Linked DNA regions of Homo sapiens: region 1 is linked to region 2. The links come from fine-mapping of genetic effects on gene expression. A gene starts in region 2. The other region holds a variant in brackets. All regions are shown on one strand. Distances are between the middles of the regions. Region 1 has its middle 3.4 kb from the start of CTSS. Region 2 holds the start of C1orf54 (chromosome 1 open reading frame 54).

Evidence for each region. PIP is the estimated chance that this variant, and not a neighbour inherited with it, causes the effect.
Region 1: its variant is the best candidate, but not a certain one, in a credible set for the expression of C1orf54 in hypothalamus (GTEx, PIP 0.68).

Annotation. Positions count from the first base shown.
Region 1 is chr1:150,766,934-150,771,333 of GRCh38, forward strand. No RefSeq gene overlaps it. Among named protein-coding and RNA genes, the nearest start is that of CTSS, 3.4 kb to the left of the region's middle. RefSeq lists a silencer at 4,056-4,175. The variant G/T (reference allele first, on the strand shown) is at 2,186.
Region 2 is chr1:150,270,845-150,275,244 of GRCh38, forward strand. C1orf54 (chromosome 1 open reading frame 54) reads left to right here and starts at 1,946. Exons shown (of 6, transcript NM_024579.4): 1 at 1,946-2,019; 2 at 3,243-3,326. The coding sequence starts at 1,974. The region is part of intron 1 of LOC124904414; the gene reads right to left.

The DNA of each region.
Region 1 (4,400 bases), 500 kb after region 2:
TAATTTTTGTATTTTTAGTAGAGACAGGGTTTCACCATCTTGGCCAGGCTGGTCTTGAACTCTTCACCTCGTGATCCACCCGCCTCAGCCTCCCAAAGTGCTGGGATTACAGGTGTGAGCCACCGTGCCCGGCCAAGGTGTATGTGTTTTAAAAATATATTCTGGCTTCTAATCTTTGACAGTTATATACCCTTAAAAACATCCTCCCTTAGTCTTCCACTTGTCTTTTATTTTATTTTTTCTTCCTTTGCATAAGCCTATGAAATTCCACTTGTCCTTTAGTCTTGTTTATAGTGAGTTTTTCTATATGAAATTTTTTTATGTTGAGGTAGAACATTTTATTCAGCTTTTCCGTATAATCAATCTATACTGTTTTTGTATAAGAAAATTTTCCTCATCCAAATGTAATAAAGATACACTCATCTTATTTTTATACTTTCAGAGAGTGTTTTATTTATCTTTTCTATGGCTACTGCTTTTAGGTGTTTAATTCACCTGGAATTTAGTTTTGTGTATGGTATGACGTAGGGAGCTTATTTTCTTTGTTTTCCAATTTTGATTCTACCTCTATTGTACACCAAATTCTCATACATAGATAGGTCAGTTTCTGAGCTCATGAAGCTGTTCTTTTTATCTTTTGCTACTTCAGTATCACACAGTTTTAATTAAAACAGCTTTGTAATATGTCTCCACGTATGGTAAGGCAAGTCATCTAGGCCACCCTATCTTTGTTCTTCTTTTTAAACATTGTCTTTGTATTTTGTACTTGTTAACTCTTCTTTATATGAATTTTTTGAATCAGTTTATCAAGTTCCCTGAAAAACTCTGTTGGAGTTTTTTGCTTTTTTCTTTTGGAGACAGGGTTTCATTCTGTCACCCAGGCTGGAGTGCAGTGATGCAATCATGGCTCACTGCAGCCTTGACCTCCTGGGCTCAAGTGATCCTCCCGCCTCAGCCTCTGGAGTGGCTGGGACTACAGGTGCACACCACCATGCCTGGCTGATTTTGTTTTTTGTTTTTTGTAGATAAGGGGTTTCACCATGTTGCCCAGGCTGGCCTCAAACTCCTGGGCTCAAGCAATCTGCCCACCTTGGCCTCCTGAAGTGCTGGGATTACAGGCATGAGCCCCCACATCTGGCTATTAGAGTTTTTATTTGAATATATGCATAAATTTAGGGAGAAGTAACATCATTATAATGTTGATTCATCTCAGCTGTAGTAGACATGTTTGTGTTTGTAGCCATACAGTTTTTTTTAAAAAGATACTGCTTATGGAAAATTTAAAACACATGTAAAAGTAAAAATAGTAGTAAAATGAGCTGCCGTGAAACCATTGTCTTGTTTCAACAATGATCAGTACATGGCCAATCTTATTTTATTTATATTCCCACTCTCACTACCTGAATTATATTAAATAAATTCTAGACATTCTGTCATTTCATACGTAAATGTCCCTGTGTGTGTCTTTAAAAGACAGAGACTATTAAACAAATATAATACCACAATACCATCATCACATCTAAAATAAATGAACAATAATTTTCTTTTTTTTTTTTTTCTGAGACAGAGTCTCACTCACTTGCCCAGGCTGGAGTGCAGTGGTGTGATCCCAGCTCACTGCAATCTCTGCCTGCCGAGTTCAAGCGATTCTCCTGCCTCAGCCTCCCAAGTGGCTGGGATTACAGGCATGTGCCATCACACCCAGCTAATTTTTGTATTTTTAGTAGAGATGGGGTTTCACCACATTGGCCAGGCTTGTCTCGAACTCCTGACCATAGGTAATCTGCCCACCTCAGCCTCCCTAAGTACTGGGTTTACAGGTGTGAGCCACTTTATTGTCATAAGAAATTAAGACAATAATTTCTTAATGTCATCAGACATCCTATCAATGTTCACATTTTCTGGACTGTCTTATACATTTTTTAATAGTTTGTTTGAATTGAGATTTAAATAAGCTCCATATATTGTGAAACCATTGAGTTATGTTTATATCATTATGAATTCATGGATTTAAACATATTTGATGTGTTTCAATCCATTCCAGTTTTATCCTTATTGATACTCATATTGTCTCATTTTTGGTCTGTAGGAATTTATTCAAACTGGCTCTTTGGTGCAGACAGAGTTTGTATATTTGGCATAATATTAGTACTCTTTAAAAGCTTCCTTTCTTTCTAATATGACA[G/T]GCTATTGCAGGTTTGTCTTGAACAATTCCTGCCCCAGACCTGGAATCAGCCATTTCTCCAAGGAGCTCTGGTTCCTTTTAGTGGAAACAATGTTTAAATACCATAATCTAGGAACTAGCAGTGTTTGGGATAGCAGATTGACCATTGTTGCTAAGCCTTTTCAGTAGCTAGAGCTAAGAAATATCTTTTTTAAAAAAATTAAATAAATCACAAGCTGACACTGATACTTCAAATTCAAATTCAAGACTATAGGGTTTACTCACCCCATCAATCTTATATCTGCACTTCTTTTCAAACATGCTTAAAAAATCTGGGTTCTCTAAAATATCAACTCAAGTACTTGTTTAATTTATCCTGTAAAATTGCAGAATAACAACAACAAGCCTACGCCAATAAGATTGTTAATGAAAACAAATTAGAGGTTTTAAAGTGGAGGGGGACAGGTTTTTCTCCATTAAGCCAAATGTCGCTAACGATGTAAGTCAATTACTGTGTTTTGAAGTCACCTGGAATAGTTCCCTGTATGGTTATGCTCCACCTCCATACACAGGTTTATTTGTTTCATTTCACTTCTTCCTTTTAGGGCTTGCTTTTTACACTTATGTAATTTCATTTTATAATTATGTAAAACATTTATGTGGATCCAAAGTGAAATCATCACAATGAGGTATATTCAAAGAACTCTAGCCTCTACTTTTGTCTGTTTTACACGATTTCCTTTTTTCCTTAATTGGTAATCATTTAAAAAATTTATGGTTTATCTTCCTATTTTTAGAAATATGCAAATATGCCTATATATTAATATTCTTTCATCTTAAGTGAACACTAACATATTACACATATTTTTCTCTATCTTGTTTTTTTCACTTAGCATTTTTTTTGTTTTAGTCAATCACTTAACATTTTATTAAGAAAAATTATTCAGGCGAAAGACATTAGCAGGTGTCCTTTCAGTGATGTGCTGGGTATTATTTAGTGGACCTTTACAGGAATTGTTTGATTCTTTTTAGAGTTAAGTTGTAAAAAACTGATAACTATGCAAATGATCCCTATACATGGCAATGCAAATAAATTTTGTATTGTAGATTTCACTGAATAGAGAAATAGAGAATGTAGATCTCTGTCAGTCGAATTCTTTTTTTTTTTTTTTTGAGACACGGCCTTACTTCATCGCCCACGCTGGAGTGCAGTGGTGCGATCTCAGCTCACTCTAACCTCCGCCTCCCGGATTTAAGCGATTCTCCTGCCTCAGCCTCCCCAGTAGCTGAGATTACAAATGCACACCACCACACCCAGCTAATTTTTGCATTTTTAGTAGATACAGGGTTTCACCGTGTTGGCCAGGCCGGTCTCGAACTCCTGACCTCAGGTGATCCACCCACCTCGGCTTCCCAGAGTGCTGGGATTACAGGCATGAGCCACCATGCCCGGCCTCAAATTCTTATTTGAACTGACTTTAATCTTACTGATCCCTTATTAATTAATGAGTTAAACTTCGATGCGTTCGTTGTATATTTGCTCTCAGCTTTTTAGAAACTATACTTTAGCAATTAAATTCTGATAACTCCACAGTAGTATATACAGTGTTCATTTATTTTTATGGCCACCTAGCATCTTTTGAACAATATTCCCATGTTTGGAGAATTTCCCACGTTATAAATTTTGCTTCTCCAAGTTGAAGCCAAAGCTCCATTTTCAAGGATCCAGTGCAGTTAAGGCACAGACATGAGACCTAGCCTTTGCCAGTCAGGCACACCTGTATAGAACATCATTTTGCAAGTGGGTAAGTGAGGAACCAGAAGTATGTAAAATCCTCCTTTTGGTGAGAATGGCAGTAGAGATGTCTCCCAGCAGCAGCAGCACCAGCAGGAGCAGGAGCAGCAGCAGATATTCTAATATCTGGTCCCCAGTGTCACCTGTTCAAACTGTAGTGTTTATGTCAAATATTGTGTCTGCTCAGTGGCATCATAGGTTGAGCAGTCCTCTCTGTGGTTTTGGTGATGTTTGTGGTTACACAATAAACAAACCTCACCGACTTTCTGGCCTTTCATAGGTTCTTTGAGTTTCCGGCACTTTTTTTTTTTTTTTTTGAGATGGAGTTTCACTCTTGTTGTCCAGGATGGAGTGCAATGGCATGATCTCGGCTCACTGCAACCTCCGCCTCCCGGGTTCAAGCGATTCTCCTGCCTCAGCCTCCCAAGTAGCTGGGATTAC
Region 2 (4,400 bases):
AATTAGCCAGGCGTGGTGGCGGGCGCCTGTAGTCCCAGCTACTCAGGAGGCTGAGGCAGGAGAATGGCGTGAACCCAGGAGGCGGAGCTTGCAGTGAGCCGAGATCGTGCCACTGCACTCCAGCCTGGGCAACAGAGTGAGACTCCGTCTCAAAAAAAAAAAAAAAAAAATTAAGAGGGTAGCGTTATCATGACCTGTGTTCAAGACTCCAGTATGTCCTGCTTCTGAGCCCAGCAGGCAGAGTAAGGTGGATAGGAATGAGACAATTCTCATGTCTTTTTTTTTTGAGATGGAGTCTCACTCTGTTGCCTAGACTGGAGTACAGTGGTGCTATCTCGGCTCACTGCAACCTCTGCCTCCCAGGTTCAAGTGATTCTCCTGCTTCAGCCTCCCTAGTAGCTGGGATTACTGGCGCCTGCCACCAAGCCCAGCTAATTTTTGTATTTTTAGTAGAGACAAGGTTTCACCATGTTGGCCAGGCTGATCTCCTGACCTCAGGTGATCTGTCCGCCTAAGCCTCCCAAAGTACTGGGATTACAGGCGTGAGCCACTGTGGCCAGCTTCATCTCTCCATTGAGCTGTTACCACAGCATCTTCTGACCATTGACAGGAGGCTGTAAACCTATCTTGTTCATGGGTGTTTCCACAGACACTTGCATAGTGCCTGACTCATAGTAGATGTTGAGCAGATACTTATTAACTTCCCTTAAGAACAAAGCAAAACTGTCTTTTCTTATTCCCTTGCCTATAAGCTCTCAATTGCCTATCACACTAGGCCTAGCACACTGTGCCTAGCACGTATGTTGCTAAGGGTTTCTGAATTGAATGAACATGGGAAACATAAAAGCAGAGGAAAGGATAAAAACTCTACACCTGTAGGACGGAATGAAGGGAACATACCAAGTGACTGAATGTGGGAGGGAAGGTGTGGCACCTGTAGCAGGGAAAGAGACTATCTGCTTTCTCCCTTCTTCCAACCTGCATCCTGGAAGTTGAGAAAGAGATGAGGTGAGGCCGGGCACGGTGGCTCATGCCTGTAATCCCAGTACTTTGGGAGGCCAAGACAGGTGGATCATCTGAGGTCAGGAGTTCGAGACCAGCCTGGGCCAACATGGTGAAACCCCGTCTCTACTAAAAATACAAAACTTAGCTGGGCATGGTGGCACGCGCCTGTAGTCCCAGCTACCAGGGAGGCTGAGGCAGGAGAATCACTGGAACCCGGGAGGCAGAGGTTGCAGTGAGCCGAGATCGCGCCACTGCACTCCAACCTGGGTGACAAAGCAAGATTCTGTCTCAAAAAAAAAACAAAGAGGTGAGGTGAGGTCAGTGTTACCAGAAAGGAAATAACTGACCATGGCTGAGAGACTTTTAGCTGAAGCCATGCAGCAGGTGCTTTAAGTCAGACAATGATGGGTAAATATTGTTCCTATTCTCTATAGCTCCAGACAGACAGAAGAAAGGGATTCTTTTCAGTCTAGAAAAATGCTCACCCCTTCCTCAGAACATTTCCACTGTGACGAAAAGAGACTGATGAAGCCTCAGAGAGAAAGGCAACTCTGGGTGGTGATGGTAAGTCAGAGACAGTGAGAGGGAGGGTGAACTTTTTATGAGGCCTTGGAGGAAGGAAGGAAAGCCGGGAGAGGGGAAACTTCTTGGTAGGCTTATTTTTTATTTTTATTTTGGTAGTGACAGTGGGAGTCTTGAATGGATCTAATCTAGGGCAGGGGGAGCTTAAGAAACATGTTTGCATCAAAACCCCCTTTTGCCTCTCAATCTGGGCAGCTCTGGCTGGGGACCGGCAGTAACCGGAGATCTAGTCAGTCAGCCAGTAGGCGGGGAGTTCTGCCCCCTGGGAGGAGAAGAGTTGCTGCAGCTCCTTCCCTGCTTTGGAGGAGGAGGGGAGGCGGGGTAAGTTTGGTGGGAAACTCTGTAATTTCCTTTTTTACTTTCACAGCAATAGTGCAGAATCCAGAATGGATGTCCTCTTTGTAGCCATCTTTGCTGTGCCACTTATCCTGGGTAAGTCCACTCCTCTCTCTGAGCTTTTGTGCCAGGTCTTCTACCATAAATGGGGTGGGAGAAAAAAAATGAGGAGTGGGTGAGAGGTACATTTCAGTGGGGAGCGATAGAGTTTTCTCATCGTGCTGGGGTCCGGTGTTGAGGGCAGAATGGAGATCTGGAAGGCAGAGCCAGGAAAGGGGGAAAAAAGCAGAGTCCTGTCAAACAAGGAGGATGGAGCTCCAGACACAAGGAGGCCCTAGCAACACTGAGCTCAGTTCTCCATCACCACGGAAGTTGAACAAGATGACAGGGGCTAAAGTAAGGGTGAAGGAGGGATTATTGGAAGGTGTCACAGTCTGAAACTAGTAGTTAGGGTATCTCCTTTCCCAGAGAATTGGAGAAAAAAACCTGCTATTAGTAAAGACACAGAAGTGGGGTGACCTTTAGGGTAGTGGAAAACTGGCTGTCTTCAGGGACAGGGTCCCAAGAGTAGCTTGGCTCCTTCCCTCCTTTGTTCCCCAGTCTACCAGGTGTGTCTCATTGTTTCCTTTTCCTCTAGATTCTTGTGTCATTAGCTTGGAGTTGAAGGGAAAGCATTCAAGGAGCTCAGGGAAGTGTTTAGCAGGAGGCCTGGAGTTCTTGATCCAGTCATATCAAAGCCACATATTTTTAGTTCTGAAAGGGAAGAAAAACTAACAGAGATGGGTCATTTTAGTCCAGCTGACTCATTTTAAGAAAGCGGATGTTAAGTGGATTGTTCAGGGTTATTCTGTTAGCAGTGAAGGTGGAACTAAAGCTCAAATCCAAAGCCTAAGGGTGTATGTTAGTTATTTGTAAGAGATACTGATAAGAAAAGATGTCTCACAAATACAGTAAGATCTGGAGCATACTAAATAGAAGACTTGGCGTTTTTAATTCCTGGTCTCTACTTTTCCTACCTTTTTTAGGTCTGGTTCTCCCTTTGGGTTTATAGTATGTGAAGGGGACTGTTTTCTGTTTTAGGAGTTCCTGGATTGAAAGGGCACGGAGTAACAGGCCTCATTACAGATATGGATCCCAGAAGACTGAGAGGGGTGTAGAGGTGCACAGGCAAGAAAGGAGTATGACTATTGGAGGAGAGAGAGAGAGAGAGAAAAGAAAGAAAGAGCAAGAAAGCTGGGAGCGCTGAGGTCATCTCCAGGTGTCCTTTTGTTAGTAAGGTGTTCCAGATGTCCCTTGACCTCTAGTCCTTGTCCCCATAGGACAAGAATATGAGGATGAAGAAAGACTGGGAGAGGATGAATATTATCAGGTGGTCTATTATTATACAGTCACCCCCAGTTATGGTGAGTACATGAAAGGCTCTTGCCCTTAGCCAACTGGAGAGAGGCTTCAGGATATTTAGTTCTGAGACTTTGCTCTTCACTTTGAAGCAGAGCAATGGGGTCAGAGAAAAATCTGGCTATGAACAAAACCTATCAAGACTCATGATGGGGCCGGGCGTGGTGGCTCACACCTGTAATCCCAGCACTTTGGGAGGCTGAGGCGGGCGGATCACGAGGTCAGGAGATCGAGACCATCCTGGCTAACACAGTGAAACCCTGTCTCTACTAAAAATACAAAAAATTAGCCGGGTGTGGTGGCGGGTGCCTGCAGTCCCAGCTACTTGGGAGGCTGAGGCAGGAGAATGGCATGAACCCGGGAGGCAGAGGTTGCAGTGAGCTGAGATCGTGCCACTGCACTCCAGCCTGGGTGACAGAGCAAGACTCCATCTCAAAAAAAAAAAATGAAAAAAGATTTATGATGGGCTGGGCGCAGTGACTCATGCCTGTAATCCCAGCACTTTGGGAGGCTGAGGTGGGTGGATCACCTGCGGTCAGGAGTTTGAGACCAGCCTGGCCAACATGGTGAAACCCTGTCTCTACTAAAAATACAAAAATTAGCTGGGCATGGTGGCACCTGCCTGTAGTCCCAGTTATTCAGGAGGCTGAGGCAGGAGAATCGCTTGAACCTGGGAGGCAGAGGTTGTGGTGAACTGAGATCACACCACTGCACTCCAGCCTGGGCGACAGAATGAGACTACGTCACAAAAAAAAAAAAAGACTCATGATGATGTTATTTTTCCAGATAGTGATTTTTAGATGGGAGGATTGCTTGAGCCCAGGAGTTCAAGACCACCCTGGACATCATAGCAAGACCTTGTCTCTATAGAAAAAAAAATTTTTTTTTTTTGAGACCAAATCTCATGCTGTCACCCAGGCTAGAGTGCAGTGGCACAATCTCAGCTCACTGCAACCTCTGCCTCTCGGCTTCCAGCTATTCTCTTGCCTCAGCCTCCTAGGTAGCTGGGACTACAGGCGTGTGCTACCATGCCCGGCTAATTTTGTATCTTTAGTAGAGACAAGGTGTCACCATGTTGG